3 separate regions of the Homo sapiens genome follow, and all the other regions are linked to region 1. Evidence: fine-mapped expression QTL. A gene starts in region 1. Each other region holds a variant in brackets. All regions are shown on one strand. Distances are between the middles of the regions. Region 1 holds the start of SLCO3A1 (solute carrier organic anion transporter family member 3A1). Region 2 overlaps SLCO3A1 (solute carrier organic anion transporter family member 3A1). Region 3 overlaps SLCO3A1 (solute carrier organic anion transporter family member 3A1).

The links. PIP is the estimated chance that this variant, and not a neighbour inherited with it, causes the effect.
Region 2: its variant is the best candidate, but not a certain one, in a credible set for the expression of SLCO3A1 in whole blood (TOPMed, PIP 0.83).
Region 3: its variant is the best candidate, but not a certain one, in a credible set for the expression of SLCO3A1 in cerebellum (GTEx, PIP 0.72).

What each region holds. Positions count from the first base shown.
Region 1 is chr15:91,850,803-91,856,270 of GRCh38, forward strand. It overlaps SLCO3A1 (solute carrier organic anion transporter family member 3A1), which reads left to right and starts at 2,906. Exons shown (of 10, transcript NM_013272.4): 1 at 2,906-3,286. The coding sequence starts at 3,107. RefSeq lists silencers at 2,328-2,502, 2,371-2,510.
Region 2 is chr15:92,162,793-92,168,260 of GRCh38, forward strand. It overlaps SLCO3A1 (solute carrier organic anion transporter family member 3A1), which reads left to right. Exons shown (of 10, transcript NM_013272.4): 10 at 1-3,111. The coding sequence ends at 343. Among named protein-coding and RNA genes, the nearest start is that of ST8SIA2, 230 kb to the right of the region's middle. RefSeq lists an enhancer at 1,847-2,604. The variant C/T (reference allele first, on the strand shown) is at 2,281.
Region 3 is chr15:92,056,768-92,062,235 of GRCh38, forward strand. The region is part of intron 2 of SLCO3A1 (solute carrier organic anion transporter family member 3A1); the gene reads left to right. Among named protein-coding and RNA genes, the nearest start is that of SLCO3A1, 210 kb to the left of the region's middle. The variant C/G (reference allele first, on the strand shown) is at 2,746.

The DNA.
Region 1 (5,468 bases):
ACTTGGTGCTCATAAACCCACCTTATCATCCCTGGAGCCCTGATCTACAAGTAAATAAAGGATGAGCAAAGAAGGAAGGGAGTTGAACTTGTTAAATTCCTTCTTTCTGACTGTTGTGAGGCCGCAGCCTGATTTCCCTGAGGCTGACTTTGATGATTCTTTAGGCTTCAGGCACCAGGATTACTTTCATGGCTGCTTACCATTAATTATAGGAAGAATCCACAACCCTAATCCGAAATCCTTTATCTGACAGCAAAAGTGTGTGATTTCTCTAAAGACAGCTAATTTTTTAATCTAAAATAAATGGTTAAGCTGAAAGAAGGCTGTGCCCTTCTCAGTCTGTACATGAGGCATTGTGGCATAGAACAAAAAGGGCTGGCCGGGCGTGGTGGCTCATGCCTGTAATCCCAGCACTTTGGGAGGCTGAGGCAGGTGGATCACCTGAGATCAGAGTTCGAGACCAGCCTGACCAACATTAAGAAACCCCGTCTCTATTAAAAATACAAAATTAGCCGGGTGTGGTGGCACGTCTGTAATTCCAGCTACTCCAGAGGCTGAGGCAGGAGAATCACTGAAACCCGGGAGGTGGAGGTTGCCATGGGCCGAGATCGCACCATTGCACTCCAGCCTGGGCAACAAGAGCGAAACTCCATCTCAAACAAACAAACAAACAAAAAAGAACAAAAAGGGCTGGACATGGATGCAAGTTTTGTTCCTTTCCAGCTTTATAAAAGAGGAACAACATAAGTCCCAGCCTCCCCATCAGATGAACCACACTGCGTGATAAACGAGATAATATGTATGTAGTTATAAAGAACCTGGGCTATGATGGCAGACAACCTGGTTTTCAAAGACTTGCCCTGCCACTTACTAGACAAGTGACACTGGTCAGGTTAACCTTTCTAGGCCTCAGTTGTCTCATCTGTAAAACAAGGCTAATAATAGTATCTGGTTTAGAGGATTGCTGTGAGGATTACGTTGTAAATGCGGGTGAAGCACTGAGAATGGTGTCTGGCCATAATAAGCACACAGTAAACATTAGCTCTTGTTATTACAAAGAATGTAAATAAGAGTTGAAGACTATAAAGCACTCCGCACATTTCATTAGCAATGGGGTCACCATTCGTAGACAAGTCTCAGCTCAGCTTTGCAGCTTACCGTCACAGAGGCAGGGAACAGAGCTAGCTTGTCAAGGGTCTTCTCAGGAGGAAGTGGGGAGGTAGCCCATGAAGCAAAGTGATGGGGAGGGAAAGAGGGGGACATAAAGATCCTGCAGAGAAGTTGGCTCCGAGTGATAGGAGGGTGTGGGGAAGAAAGAAGGGGGCAGTAAGGATTCTCATTATAGGACTGGCCGGGAATGGTGTGACCACTGATTCAGGAAGTGGGGAAGACGGGAAGAGACTTCAAGTGTGGGGGGAGCCAATTCAGATAGGAGGTGGCCTAGACAAGGTGAGGGCATCTCAAAGCGACACCAAGCCTGGGTGAGATCACGTCTGGAGCCACAGAAGGATGAAGCAGTTTATATTTAAATGCCATGGCAAAACAACATCCCCACCATTACACCCTCCATTCTCATTCAAGTTCTTCGGGAGAAAGGAAAAATATGGTCGGGTTCATTGCTATTCAGTTTTGAAGTTGAGCCTGCATTTGGACACAGGCGCTTGGGAGAGTGGGTCATTTTCTTTGACACAATTATTAAGGAAACCGTTTTAAATGATTCCTTGAGTCCCCCAATGGCCCAGGTGGAAGGTGCTGTTTCCTGGTACCTGTCCAGCCCTCTGAGCTTTTCTCTCAGCTTCCAAACGCTGCAGTTGAGAACTAGCAGATCCTATTGGTAGTGCCCTGTGGCCCACACTCCTTGGTAACGGTGAGAGTGGGGAGTAATTAGGAGCGGCTGCCATGGGCCAGGCATTCAGGTCAAGGCCGAGGATGGTGGCCAGGGCCACAGAGCCAGGGGACGGGTGGGGACCCAGCAGGCCTGCGGCTGGCCGCTTGCTGAGCGCTCCAGCAGCGGGGCCCTGGGCGGATGAAGGGCCGGAGAAGGCCCTCTGCTGGGGCCGCGGCGATCTTGCAGCGCCTGGACACCGAGGCTGGGGCACTAACGGTCCGTGGGGCTCCCGACGTATTCCTCTAACTTCCCCTTTCTGTCCTTTCGGTCTGGGGCCTTTTCAACACCCCCTGTGGCCGGGGACAGCTGGGGCAGAAACCGGCAGGCGGCAGAAGCCTCAAGCAGCTCTGACCTCTGGCACCTCCCCAAGACCCAGAGCACAACATCTGTCCCCAGAAATCCCCGGGCGGAGAAGAGCGCGCGCCAAGCCCTTCCTGGGTACTCAGTATTCTCCCTTCCTGGGAACAGCCTGCCCTCTGAGGCCTGGGCACCCGGGTTCCCGAGCGCCGGGTCCCAGCCCCGCGGGGGCGCCTCCGCACCCCATCTCCGCGCCCGGCGCAGAGCCGCCAGTCTCCGCCGCGGGGCCCCGTGCCCCGCAGCGCCACCTAGGGGCCGGGCGCCGCCTCCCGCCCTCAGGGGCACCCCCCTTACTCCGCAAGGACTCCGGGTCTCCCCAGTTCTCCCGGCAGCCGGACCCTCCCAGCCTCGGCCGCCGGGCCGCCCTCCGCATCCCAAGCCCGCCTCCCGTGCCTCCCCGGGGGCGCACCGGCAGCGAGGAGCGGCTCGGCGAGGGCGCGCAGCGGCGGCCCAGGCCCAGGCCTTGGGGCTGGGGCTGAGGGGGTGAGAGCAGGCGCGGCCGGCGGGCAAGGGGAACCGGGCGATGGCAGCGGCGGGCGGCCGCGGGAGGCGAGGCAGCGGCGGCGGCGGGCGGCGCGACGAGCCCCTGTGATTGGCACAGCCGGAGCCGGAGGAGGAGGCCAGGGGAGGGCGGAGGCGGGGGAGGAGGAGGAGGAAGGGGCGATCGCGGCGGCGGCGGCGGCGGCGAGGAGCTGTGCCTTCCACCTCTCCAGCCCCGGCAGGACGGGGGCGGCCGCCGCGAACCCGGGGCGGGGACAGCACGCAGCCTCGAGGCGCGCACCCCCGCCCGGCAGCGGCCCCGACACCCGGGGCGAGCGGGAAAGCGGCAGCGGCGGCGGCGGCGGCGGCGGCGGGGGAAGGATGCAGGGGAAGAAGCCGGGCGGTTCGTCGGGCGGCGGCCGGAGCGGCGAGCTGCAGGGGGACGAGGCGCAGAGGAACAAGAAAAAGAAAAAGAAGGTGTCCTGCTTTTCCAACATCAAGATCTTCCTGGTGTCCGAGTGCGCCCTGATGCTGGCGCAGGGCACGGTGGGCGCCTACCTGGTGAGTCCCCGAGCCAACTCCGCCGCGGGCCCCTTCCCCAGCCCGGCTCTCGAGCGGCCGCCTGGCCCGACGAGGGGGCCGCCCGGCGCTGGGGGCAGGCGGGCATGACCTCGGCCCGGCGTGGAGGTTGGCGAGTGGTGCAGAGGCGGCCGCCGGGGGAGCTGCCGGCCGGGGCTGCCAGCGAGCGGGTAGCGGGCGGGACCGTTGATGCCGGTAGCAGCTCGCGCGCGTCCGGCTGGGGCAGGGGGTGCCGGGGGAGGAGAGGCGGCGGGCAGGTGGGCGTGAAACTATTCCTCTCCCCCCATAAGAGCGGAGCGAGACGGTGAGTTCAGGGTTCTCCTTGGAGAGGAACGAAAAAGCGTCGGGGTTTTCAGGTGACCTGCACATGGGAAGAAAAACCAGTTAGCATCCTGCGTCCTCTACTCTCCATTGCATCCTCCTCGAGAACAAATCTATTATGCATCATTTTCTCCGGGCGCTTTCTACATCCGCCAATTACAGGGGGATATAACAGCTTAGAGTGAAATGCGCCCTAGTGTGGCCCTGGCCTGAGCCGGGGCTGCAGGGGGAATATTGCCACCCGGTATCCCTATAGCCCTCTTTGAGCGTCTGGGATAAAGTTACGGTACCTAGAGAGCAGCTGCGAGTTTGTGTAGTTCCTGCTATCCACTCTTAGTGCTAAATTCCCCATCGTGGTCTGTCGCCTACAGAAGGTTGCACCATTTTCCACAATGAATATGTATTTTATTTGCCTCCAGAAAGGGGATGTTAATGCTCAGAGGGCCCATGGGTGCGTAACATTTCAGAGGAAACAGCTTGTAATGACTCAGCACTGTCAGGTACCTACTTTGTCGCTTTCGCCTCCTCTGCTCAGGTGGTCGCAACTTGAGTTCCAGAGAGCGTGCTTCCACACCTAAGTACAGTCCTGTCTAAACGGGAAATTTTTTTTGAGAGTTTATAGTGTTAAATCATTACTTGGCTATTGACCCGCAACTGGAATCAAATGTCATAGACTTTGAGTATTCCTGAGCAAGTTTGATGGAGATAGAATTGGACAAGATTTTGGCCATTGAATAACCACATCCAGAGATAGAACCACGCGTATCCTGATGCTATGATTAATCCCTCATTCCTGGCCTTGGGGTAAAGTTCATGAGGGCCAGACGCTGGGGGCTGTATACCATTCATAAACTATCTCTTAAGGCTCAGGGCTCACTGTTAAAGGGAAATACAAGCAGTGCTTGGTCTCCGGTGTTGAGGAAGTTAGGTGGTTGTGAGAGAGGGGGTCTTCAAACTCAGCTCTGTTCCTGGGGTGACAGAATTTCAGGGCTTTTGAAAATCAAATACATTTCTGTTGCTCATTCTGAGACGAAAAGCGTTTACATCCCGGTCTCTGTCTTGTGCATTCGTAACTTGTAGACTGCAAGTGAACCCTGTAGTCAAAAGCATACCTTGTTTTCTGTTCTATAAAATACACTTATTGTGTCTATAGTTATAATATGCAGTTGCAGACAGTACCTATTAGCCCTTGGAATTTGAGGGATAGGGGATAATTGTGTTTTGGGAGTCAGTTTATCGGCACTTCCTTAGGGGAAATTTAACTGTTAAAATATTTAAATAAGTACATGTATTACAGAGATGCAAATTCACATTAATAAAATATATGTGGGTCTGTACTGTGACATATGCAAAGTACATAATACCTAACCGGGTCTATGTTTAGAAGGAGGTAATTAGTATATCAACAGCTGCCTCCACTTTAACGGTTTGTTTGCCTCAAACCAATTTTGCTCGGTAGAGTGCATTATTCATGTGTGGCAAACACCCGCAGAACTTTTCACCCCAGGAGTGATAAAAGCGTGGGCTTACTATTTTTCGGTTGCAGTGATCTAAGGATTTGACAAATAAATGAAGCTGGGCTGCAACTAGATGAATGGCCTAGCTCCTTTAGAAAGTTAAGAAGCCGAGTACTCCTGGAGTGGTGGACTTCTGGAGGCAGGGCTGGCCCCAGGAGATAGGAGGTTGACTTTAATCCCAGAACAGGGGAATGGCAAGCAGAGGAGGAATTCGGTCCACCTGGTGGCGGCATCCTGGCACTTCTAGCCTTCGCTGATGGAAAGCCTGGTTGGGTGGGGTAGGGTAACAGGAGTCAACAGGTGACTTGCAGAAAGCAGCTGGAGGC
Region 2 (5,468 bases), 310 kb after region 1:
CGACTCCACCTGCCTGTTCTGGAGCACGTTCTGTGGGGAGCAAGGCGCCTGCGTCCTCTACGACAATGTGGTCTACCGATACCTGTATGTCAGCATCGCCATCGCGCTCAAATCCTTCGCCTTCATCCTGTACACCACCACGTGGCAGTGCCTGAGGAAAAACTATAAACGCTACATCAAAAACCACGAGGGCGGGCTGAGCACCAGTGAGTTCTTTGCCTCTACTCTGACCCTAGACAACCTGGGGAGGGACCCTGTGCCCGCAAACCAGACACATAGGACAAAGTTTATCTATAACCTGGAAGACCATGAGTGGTGTGAAAACATGGAGTCCGTTTTATAGTGACTAAAGGAGGGCTGAACTCTGTATTAGTAATCCAAGGGTCATTTTTTTCTTAAAAAAAGAAAAAAAGGTTCCAAAAAAAACCAAAACTCAGTACACACACACAGGCACAGATGCACACACACGCAGACAGACACACCGACTTTGTCCTTTTTCTCAGCATCAGAGCCAGACAGGATTCAGAATAAGGAGAGAATGACATCGTGCGGCAGGGTCCTGGAGGCCACTTGCGCGGCTGGGCCACAGAGTCTACTTTGAAGGCACCTCATGGTTTTCAGGATGCTGACAGCTGCAAGCAACAGGCACTGCCAAATTCAGGGAACAGTGGTGGCCAGCTTGGAGGATGGACATTTCTGGATACACATACACATACAAAACAGAAAACATTTTTTAAAAGAAGTTTCCTAAAATAAAAAAAATTAAAAAAAAAAAACCCACAAGTTGAAAACATTGCCAGATTAAGCACTAGTGACACACCCCGTGCCACCCTCTTCCTCCAGGTGGGGGTGGGGGCGGGCGCACAAGTCGGAGGGGTGGAAGCACCACTCCTCTCTCTGACTTTCGCAATATGGGTCACTGTGTAGACGACTCACCCAGTCTGCATGTGGTTCAAGGCCCCAGAGTTCTCTCAGTGATGCTAATGGGTGATCCGTGCTGGAGTTTGTAATTGGCACCTCTCACCAGCTCCATTTCCATGTTCAAGACTGAGGGCCTGAGGGGGAGCCAGGTGGGGGGCCAGCACCTCCCAGTGGCGGGCATCCACCTTCCCCCAGCCCCACAGAGTGACCTCAGGAAGCAGTAGGCCTCGCCTGGCTATGACTGACCCGGCTCAGAGCTGGTGAGACCCAACGCAGTCCAAGTCATTTGCTTACATTTGCCAAAAACATTTTGCCATTTTTAAAAGAAAAAAATACAATCCATATGAATTTCAAACTGTTGTATGTATAATCCTCTAATACTATTTTTAACTACTTCTAAAATCTGTGTTAACCCTTCAAGTCACTAACACAGTTCTCTAGGCCGGATTTATTATGCTGGTTGCTTTTACTTTTTTTCTCCTTTTTTAATGCACCAAAAATATGTGATACAAGGGATGCAATTAACCTATTGTAATTTTCATCATTTTATCCTCATTCGAATATTCTACAAAAACAAGAATATACAATGTGTTACAAGAAGAAAAAAAAATGCTTCAAAAAGAGAGTGTATATGCAGCCTGCCTTTAAAAGAATCACATTTGAGACAACAGGGGATAATGTGATGAATTGCAAATTTGCCTTTTAGCTTCCTTCCCCATGATTCAGTGATCACTGTCACGGGAAACCCTTTTATATTCATGCTTGACATTCCAAGAGGCGTTCTTTTCAGCCTGTGGAGGAGACACTCTTAGATGTGGGTTTGTGTGTATGGGTGCAACACTTCCGGGGATAGGAAAGAAGAACAGTTCCCTAACACAAGCTGTTAAGAAGTCTGTAGCATCTCTGATAACGAATAGACCCACAAGCTCCTGGAAGCTGTCGTGTGTCCAATGCGTGAAAATGTCTGTGACATTTTCAGTGTTAGTCTTGAACTAAGGCCCTTGTCTGTGTGTTTTGAAGGTGGGTGAACCTCAGAGAATGAACCTGTTATGATTTGGGGTAAGAATCACGTTGGAAAACCTCTCGCAACCAGCACACTAGGCCTTCTACGGCCATTTCTGTAAGGGGACAGAGCTTAGGTAAAGGCACACACTCATACACACACAACAAAGGGCCCTGCTAACTTACTCCTCATGCTGCTTCAGTGACCTTTGTTCATGTCACATTCCTGGCGCTGGAAAAAAAACTCAAAGGTTGATTGGTTTGCTTTTTCACCTTGGACACATTTGCATTTTACCCACAAGGCAAACAAAAGAATCAGGAAGTAAAAAATGGTTGGGAGTGGGACAGGTATGGTAC[C/T]GAATTTTTAATGAACATTGTAAATGAAGAGGCTTGAATGACAGCCCAAATCTAGAGAAGGCACTCAGCAAGACCAACCAAAAGAAAAGCTGTGTCGTGGTATGGGGCCACCGTGATCAGCTACCTGGGGCAGGATGCTTCTGAGACAGGCCTTTCAACTGCTTAGTGTTAGTATGTCCTTGCTTATGAAAATGGGGACACTCATCAGTACGTTAACTACTAAAGGGGAGATGGTTCTCCAACCACTTCATAAAATATGTATGTTCTGTTGTTCCTAAGGCTTTGATAATATCCTGTACAGATTTTGGTTTAGTTTTGCAAATATATTGCTAATAGGTCACTCTTATAGATTATTGCTTGGCCCTTCAAACTCAGTACACACACACTGAGGCCCTTTGACCTAGTGTTTTATGGAACTATTTGCTTTGAGAGAAAAAAAAAAGAAAGTTTTTTAAACTCTTTGCATTTTGGATTTTTTTTCCTAAGATTTTAGGATGAATGTGAAAAAGATGTTAGAATAACAGGAAGACAACTCCAGGGCTGAGTTTTATCAGCAATTGGGTATAAATTTAAAGACCGCTGTTGCAGGATGGCTCTGAATTCTGTTGTGTCGTCTTTTAAAATTTTAATTATTCTCATATAGTACCGAACAGAAAACTCAGTCTAGTTTTAATTTGCCTTTTGTGCTCTAAAGAAGCATTGTACATACAACACTAGATCCAGCCCCTCGATTATCTGTTTGGTTTCAAGTGAATGAAAAGATTTCCTGGTAAGATCATTGGATTTACAGAATACAAAAATGTACGGGATGGAATAAACCTAGAAAGTGAATGCTAGAGTTCTCTCTCTTCTGCTACAAACTCCTACACCATCTCAGCTGAACATGCCCAGGGTGGATGAAAAGTCTCTCTCTGCTGAAATTGACAGATCTTTGTAACTCCTACGTAGAGACAAAGAAGGTTTGGGTTTTGTTTTGTTTTTTGTTTTGTTTTGTTTTGTTTTTCTACCAATATCATTCCCTCCTATGAAGTAAGCACATTTTGCAAAAATGCCTCTCTAGGGGACAGGGTTTGCTGTCTTCTCTCAGCTGAGGCTGTGTGCTCTCAGGGAACGCTGGCTCTGAGGCACCCTGGGGGACAGGGCTCCAGAAGGCCACAGCATGGCATGCGGGCTTTCCTCACAGCTAGCGAAGGAGTGGAAGCAGCCTCCTCTCACGGTCCCCCCGAGGAGCTTGCTAGGAACACTTAACAGGCAAAATAATAACTGGAAAGCCAGGAGCTCCTAAGGAATCATTTGACAGGGTTGCTAACGTCTTCCTAGCAGGAGGGAGCGTGCCCCTCCATAAAAATCACTTCCTTCTCACCATCTGATCATGGAATAACTCGCTCTAGTGCTGACTTTTAAAGATTGGTTGAGTGTCATCTGTACATTCCAGTCCCCCGATTCCACTGCCCTGTGTCCAGTAATTGCCCTCCAGCTTCCCCTCACTCACACTATGGCAGGGCTTCCCAGCCCTTACAGTCAAAAAGCCTGCAGAAACGTTCCACACAAGGGCAACCAGCTGGTCCCTGGGATGGTAGTCACACCACTCTTGAGGAATTTTCCCAGGAAAAAGATTCTCCTGTGGTTGCTAATGGATATTCTTTCACACCTTCCAGAGGAGGTCATTCACTGAGGAACATTTAAAATGGAGATAGATACATGTACTAAAATAGAAAAACCTCCAAGGAAAAGTAGTTTCTGGGTCCCCGTGTGCCTGCTGGGCTGGTTTTCTTGCCGCCTGCTGCTTCCGGTCCTAGGAAGTCTGGTTTCTTCTCCACCCAGCCATGCCTGCCAGACCTGTGCAGTCTGCTCTAAGCCCTGCTAGGAACTCCAAAGGCCCTACTCAGCAGTGGCAAGCTATGAAGGTCAGTGCATAGAGGTCAATGCATCTGATCATACAGTCAAGACCAGAAAAACAGGATGAGCTTCTGTTGCAGTTGGACGGAGTTACGCTATATTTTATTGTTGCTTGAATATTTTATTTGATTTGGTTTAGATGAGGGAAGAAACCATGCAGTTTTTTCAGTCTAACAGATGGAGAATACTTCCCGCTGCCTGGTGCTATTCTTACCTGACTATCTTGATGGCTTGGGAGAACCACATATCTGGCCAGAAGCCAGAGGAAAGTACCAGACACATGGCAGGGGCCTGCTGGCTCCACTGGGCTCACGCCATTCTCCTCTGATTGACCTCCTCTCAACCATGATCCATGTTTCCTTTTAGGGACCGTTCCCCCTTAGGTTAGAATCCACTTCAAATATCTAAGAGGTGCCAACTTTTCCAAGAGAGGGTGCTAGTGAAATTAAATTTGGCCTGGAAAATTAGTTCAAGACCCAAATATAGTATTTATCCATTTTCTAACCTTCCTTCCTTTTTTATTACACCTGCTCCGCCCGACTTATTCCAAACTGCTACTCTCACAACAGCCGCAAGAACGTAATCCCTTACAGTAAACCACCCTAAGTGACAGACTTTGGACCCCACGCCCCTAGTGTACTGTCATTGCTCAAGAGTAAATTGGAATACTCTCTCACTGGTGGAAGATGCAAGGCAGATTTTTGTTCAAATGCCTCTTATGGGGCCTGTTGCCTAGAACAGCATGTGGAATCCACCCTGAATGCATGCAGCCACCCACGCCTGCCTCATCAGTAGCTTCAGCAACCCAGAATGCTTGGTCGTCATGGCAGGGACAACATGGGTTATCAAACCTAAAATGGAAAATTTTGGAAAGCAAAGATGGCCCTGTCCCTTAGAAACCTGTGACTGCCATGGAGACAGGGACAACTCACACTTCTCAGAGACTATCCACATTAGCATTTTTCTTTGCAGAGTTTATTTGGGCGTGCATTGCATGAGTTTGATATATTCAAAACATGTATTTTTTCATTCCTTTACTTAAAATTTTGGCTATATGCCAAGCCCTAGATCAGATGCAAAAGTGGAAAAGTTTTGGTCCCTACCCTCCAAGAACCCCCATTTCAATGAGCTGGACAGATCTGAACACAAACAAAACCAATGGGATAATAGTATTAAGAGCTAGGGTCTGTCTGGGGATAAGGAGAGCCAATTCATGATGGTGGTGAGTTCTGCCTCATGGCAGCAAGAATCAGGAAGGCTCTGGAGAGTGGGTGGCCTAGAAACTAAGA
Region 3 (5,468 bases), 210 kb after region 1:
GGCAGCAGCATGGGTAGGGTTTATGGGAGTACCTGGACTTCAGGATCCTCAGGATAAATTGCAGCATCCAGAGTTGATTGGAGAGAACAAGCTCAACCCCTTCCCACTTTTAGCTTTCTTTACTGTGGAAGGATTTGGCTTTTAGGTTTCTTTACTGTGTTACCCAGTTAATTCTTTCATAATGGAAAGACAAACATCATGTCAGTTTCTCCCTCCTGCCAGAAAATACATTCCCAAACATCTCAAGGTCTCCCTGTCTGTGCCCTTCCAGAAGGTAGCCCTTGCCTGGCAGTTGCCCTTCTGGGCTATCAGAGCACCCAGCCAGCTGCTCTGCTGTGCCCGTCTCAGGAAGCCTGGCAGGCACATAAGTCCATTCTTAGCTTTCTGTCATTCCAAGCCGAAGGTGCTGGGGCCTGATTGCCACCTGGACTGCCGGTAAGAAGGCTGGAACTCGGGCAAGGCTGCAGAGGGAAGAGTGGGTCCCATGCCCCTTCCCTAGGGCAGCCCTGCAGCCTGGCAGCCCGTCATTTCACTGAGCAAAGGGATCTCAGGAAAAGCCAGCTTAGAAGAGAGATTACTGTATTCGTTTTCTTATTACTCTCAAGGTGCTTGCTTTTTCCTGAAGATAATGGTTAGAACTGAGAATATTGGCAGGCTCCAAGCATCACACACAGTCCTTGGAAAAAAACAAAATACAGTGGATTTTCACTCCCAACATGGAGAGGGTCCCAGGGACTGATGTGCCTATCTTCCCAGAAGTGCAGAAGCAGACCAGGAGACCAGTCCATCTGTGAGGACACAGTCCCAGAGAGATAGATTTTCCTCAGGCCCCACCTTTGGGGATGGAGAATCCAGCCCCATCCAGACCCAGCGCTTGAGCCTCCAGACATTGACCAGAATGTCTGCTGCTTCTTGATGCGAGTTCTCCTAGAACCTCATGTGCCAGCCAGCTAAAAGAATCACTGATAATCAGAGGCTGCATGAGCTGTCAGAGCCATCCCATTTCTCAGTGGACAAATGAGCACATTTGGTTGCAGAAGGGAGAGGGGCCTTGCCCTCGGCGACACCAGGGGACTAACAGAACCTGAATGTGGACCCAGCTTTGATGATGGTTAATAATAATGCTTATTATTAAACAAAGCCCAACTCTTTGCTGGGCAGTGTTCAAAGCTAATGGCATTTGCCATCTCTCCTTTTTATTGTAAGTATGATACATCCTATTGTCCCCAGATTCCCAGGTGAGGAAACAAGAAGCAGAGAAGTGGTGTGACTTGCCCGTGGTCACACAGCGGGTAAGGGGTCAGCTGAATTTGGACTTGAGCCTCATCATCACTATTGATTAAATGCAGCCATCTTCTAATGCTGCGCTAGGTTCCTGTATAAGCGTGAGAGTGTGTGAGTGTGTGTGTGTGTGTTTGTGCACGCCTGATCCGTGTAGCATCTCTAGAAGGTGGAGGGTGTTTCCACAGATCCAGAAACTGAGGTCAAGTCCTGAGAGTCTAAGTTCAGTGCCCTTTCTGCTATTTAAGGGAAAGAGGCCTGTCTGTGAGTTCTAACCCTATACATAAAGAATAAATGGGGTTCATTATTGAGTTTTTCCCCTTTTATTCTGTAAGTTAAAATCAACCAAATGATTGAGTTTTACCCCTCACCCATCCCCTAAGCCCATTCCTTTTAAGGGAATGGCCTTCAGATGACCTTGAAGATAGGATGTTGGGTGTCCCGCAGGGTATGGCTACACCCCACTGGATGACCCCACCTGCTATCCCATGGAAGAGAAGAACAGGCAAATGTGGCCCATCACCCCATTCACGTAGGGACACCTAGTGTTCTCTGGGAGATGAATATTCCAAACCCACATCACCATAGTCCCCATCAGGGATAATGCTTTCCTGGGGCTGCAGAAACAAAGTACCATAAACTGGGTGGCTCAAAGCAACCCAAATGTATTCTTTCACAGTCCTAGAAGCCAGAACTCCACGATCAAGGTGTCTTAGGGTTAACTTCTTCTGGAGGCTCTAAGGAAGAATCTGTGCCTGCCCCGCCTGCCTTCTGGTGGTTGCTGGCAATGCGAGGTGTTATTTGGCTTAGAGACACGTCCCTTCAATCTCTGCCTGCAATGGCCTTCCCCTCTGTGCCTGTGTCTTTCTCTCCTTTCTCTTAGAAGGACATCAGTCATTGTATTTAGAGCCTATCCTGAGATCCTTCATTTCATCTTCAGTGACTCTTATTTCCAAATGCATCGCACTCACAAGTGCTGGCGTCAGGGTTGGAGCAGTATCTGTTTGAAGGCACTATCCAACCCACTCTGTCACTGCTCTGTCATGGTATATCAGCAGCTGGGGAAGCAGTTGGAAGTCTCGGGGTAACTGAGCTTTCCCCTTTCCATCTCCACCCTCTCTTACCAAGTAGATCAACCTCTTCCCTAGGGGGGTGTTTCCTGTCACAGAGAAAGGCCAAAGCCAGCGTGCTAGAACAGGTTTCTGCAAGGACACTGTTACCTGTCTGTTTCCAAGAAGCTGTCGGGTGCCCTGTGGCTGGGCTGGTTTAGCTTTCTCTCTGCCCTCAGGCAGGGGGCTGGGTTCCATAACTTCCCAAAGCCCTTTGCAACCGGGGCACACACCACTTTCTCTGGCAGCATGGGTCCATCCTCAGGAGTGTCACATTCCCCATGCTTCTTCCGTCACCCTTGTCCAGCACTTTTCCCCAGGGCTTCACAGGACACATGCCTGGCCCTCAGGGAAG[C/G]TTGTCACTTCACTCATTATCCCGCCTGTGAGCAGCGGCTGGCAGTGTGCCCACCGTGAGCTCTGTGCCCCCGACCAGATGGCACACGAGGAGCCCAGGGCTGCTCATTCCACAGTAAGCCTAGTGGCTGGCTTCCCTGGATTTAGATATCAAAATTCACATTGGTGGAGAGAAGAGGGCTGTATCGATGCAGGGGTCTCTACACTGAGGCCTCCTTTAGCACAGAAGACCCTGTGACCTCATCAGACCAGCATTGCTGCCCAGAGCCCTAACACAGCCTGATAAGTGCATATCACTGTAGTCAGTCATGCATGGCTTAATGATGAAGACACTTTCTGAGAAATGCGTCGTTAGGCAATTTTGTCATTGCGGGGACATCACAGGGTGTACTCACACAAACTCAGATGGTGTATCCTACCGTACACCTAGGCTATAGGGTGTAGCCTGTTGTTCCTAGGCTACAAACCTGTACAGCATGTGACTGTACTGAATACTGTAGGCAGTTGCAACGCAACGGTAAGCATTTGTGTATCTAAACATAGAAAAGGCACAGTAAAACTACAGCATAAAAGATAAACAGTGGTACACCTATAGAGGGCACTTACCATGAATGGAGCTTGCAGGACTGGAAGTTGCTCTGGGTGAGTCAGTGAGTGAGTGGTGAGTGAATGTGAATGCCTAGGACAGTATTGTACACTCCTGTACCATAGGCTACACTACATTTATTTCAAAAAAATTTTCTTCACAAATAAATTAACCTTAGCCAGCTGGGCTCGGTGGTTCATGCCTGTAATCCCAGTAGTTTGGGAGGCCAAGGTAGGCAGATCATTTGAGGTCAGGAGTTCAAGACCAGCCTGGCCAACATCGCGAAACCCTGTCTCTACTAAAAATACAAAAATTAGCTGGGCGCTGTGATGCACGCCTGTAATCCCAGCTACTCGGGAGGCTGAGGCACGCTTGAACCTGGGAGGCAGAGGTTGCAGTGAGCCGAGTTTTTTTTTTTTGGAGACGGACTCTCGCTCTGTCACCCAGGCTGGAGTGCAGTGGCGCAAGCTCGGCTCACTGCAACCTCCGCCTCCGGGGTTCAGGCAGTTCTCCTGCCTCAGCCTCCCAAGTAACTGGGACTACAGACGCACAGTGCCATGCCTGGCTAATTTTTTGTATTTTAGTAGAGACGGGGTTTCACCATGTTGTCCGGGCTGGTTTTGAACTCCTGAGCTCAGGCAATCTGCCCGCCTCAGCCTCCCAAAGTGCTAGGATTACAGGCATGAGCCACTGTGCCCGGCCGGTACTTTTTAATAAAATTTTTATTTTTGTTCACTTTTTAAACATTTTTGTTAAAAACTAAGATAAAACATACACATTAACCTTGGCCTACCCAGAATCAGGATCATCAAGACATAATTGGGTGATGGAGATTTTGCAGCTTCATTATTATCTTATGGGACCACTGTCATTGTATTCGAGGTTCATCATTGACTGAAACATTTGTTACACAGTTCATGGCTATATTTGGATCTGAGCTCCTGCAGGCACTGTCTCATATTTTGACATCCACAGTAATTAATGACGTGCCTTATACGTGTTCGGTGAGTAAGTGTTTGTAAATTAATGTTTGTGAATTAGCATTTTCCCTCTTTTCTACCTTTGCACTGGGGTCTGGTATACATAGGTGCCTAATAAATGATCCTTGTTCTTCTGGGTTTCCCCTCTCCTTCCATGAGTCTAGGGGTGTTTAGAGGCTGACTGGCTCATGCCCACAGCTCAGCCCTAATAATATTTCAGGATCACAAATATCAGACTGAGAGTGGACAGAAATGAATGTGGACATGGATGAAAGGGAGGGCTTGTCTGAGTTCCATCCCAGGGATCAAAGAGGAAGAGATGCACAGCAGAAGAGATCTTCTCTCCACTCCCCACTGGCATTTGATTCAAACTCCTAGTTCCTTAGTAGCTGCCCCTCTGAAGGTCCTGAGAGACTGAGACTTCCCAAGCGTTTGTTCACTGAATCACTCCAGAAGTGTCCTCTTACTGGGATTAGCTATGAAATCTCTAAAACCCAAAGAGCTAATAGGGCTGTTGGCTGTTGGGAAGATCCTAAGAAAGCTAAGAGGTGGAGGAGGTGCACCCACTGTCCATCCCCACTGGCCACCGTGGTGGAGATGGGGAGCTACAGGAGGTTCCAGGCCCTCAGGAAAGCAGAGAGTTGAACAGCATGCTAGCAAAACAGGCCAGAAGGACCAGGAGCCTGCCGGGTTGTCCTCCTAGGCAACCCATCACCCTGTTAGACGCTCCTATGGGTTTGTTTGTGGATGCACATGTACATCCTTACACAAGGGCCTCCCCTTTGGGAGCCACAAGGGTTTAGCTACATGGTCATGTCAAGGCTCTGGGTGATACAGGGCAAGATCTGGATTTTGGCAACCCTGTGGCAGTCACGCATCTGCCACCATCCAGATGGCATTGACAGACAGCGCCCCAACTCACACCCAGCCCTCCCTGGAGCTCCCACTGCCTTACGTCACTACATGTTGCCCCGGGCCCCTCCTGGAGGCCTTGTCAAAACAGGATGAAGAGCAAACCCTGAACACTGGGGAAATCCAACTGAGGAAGACCTGAGTGTTACCTAACTCTGAGCCTTCAAAATCCTGTACTAGGACAGCAAACACACACACACTATTCTGATTCTGTTCCGGGAAGGGTTTCAGATGGTAAAAGTTTTT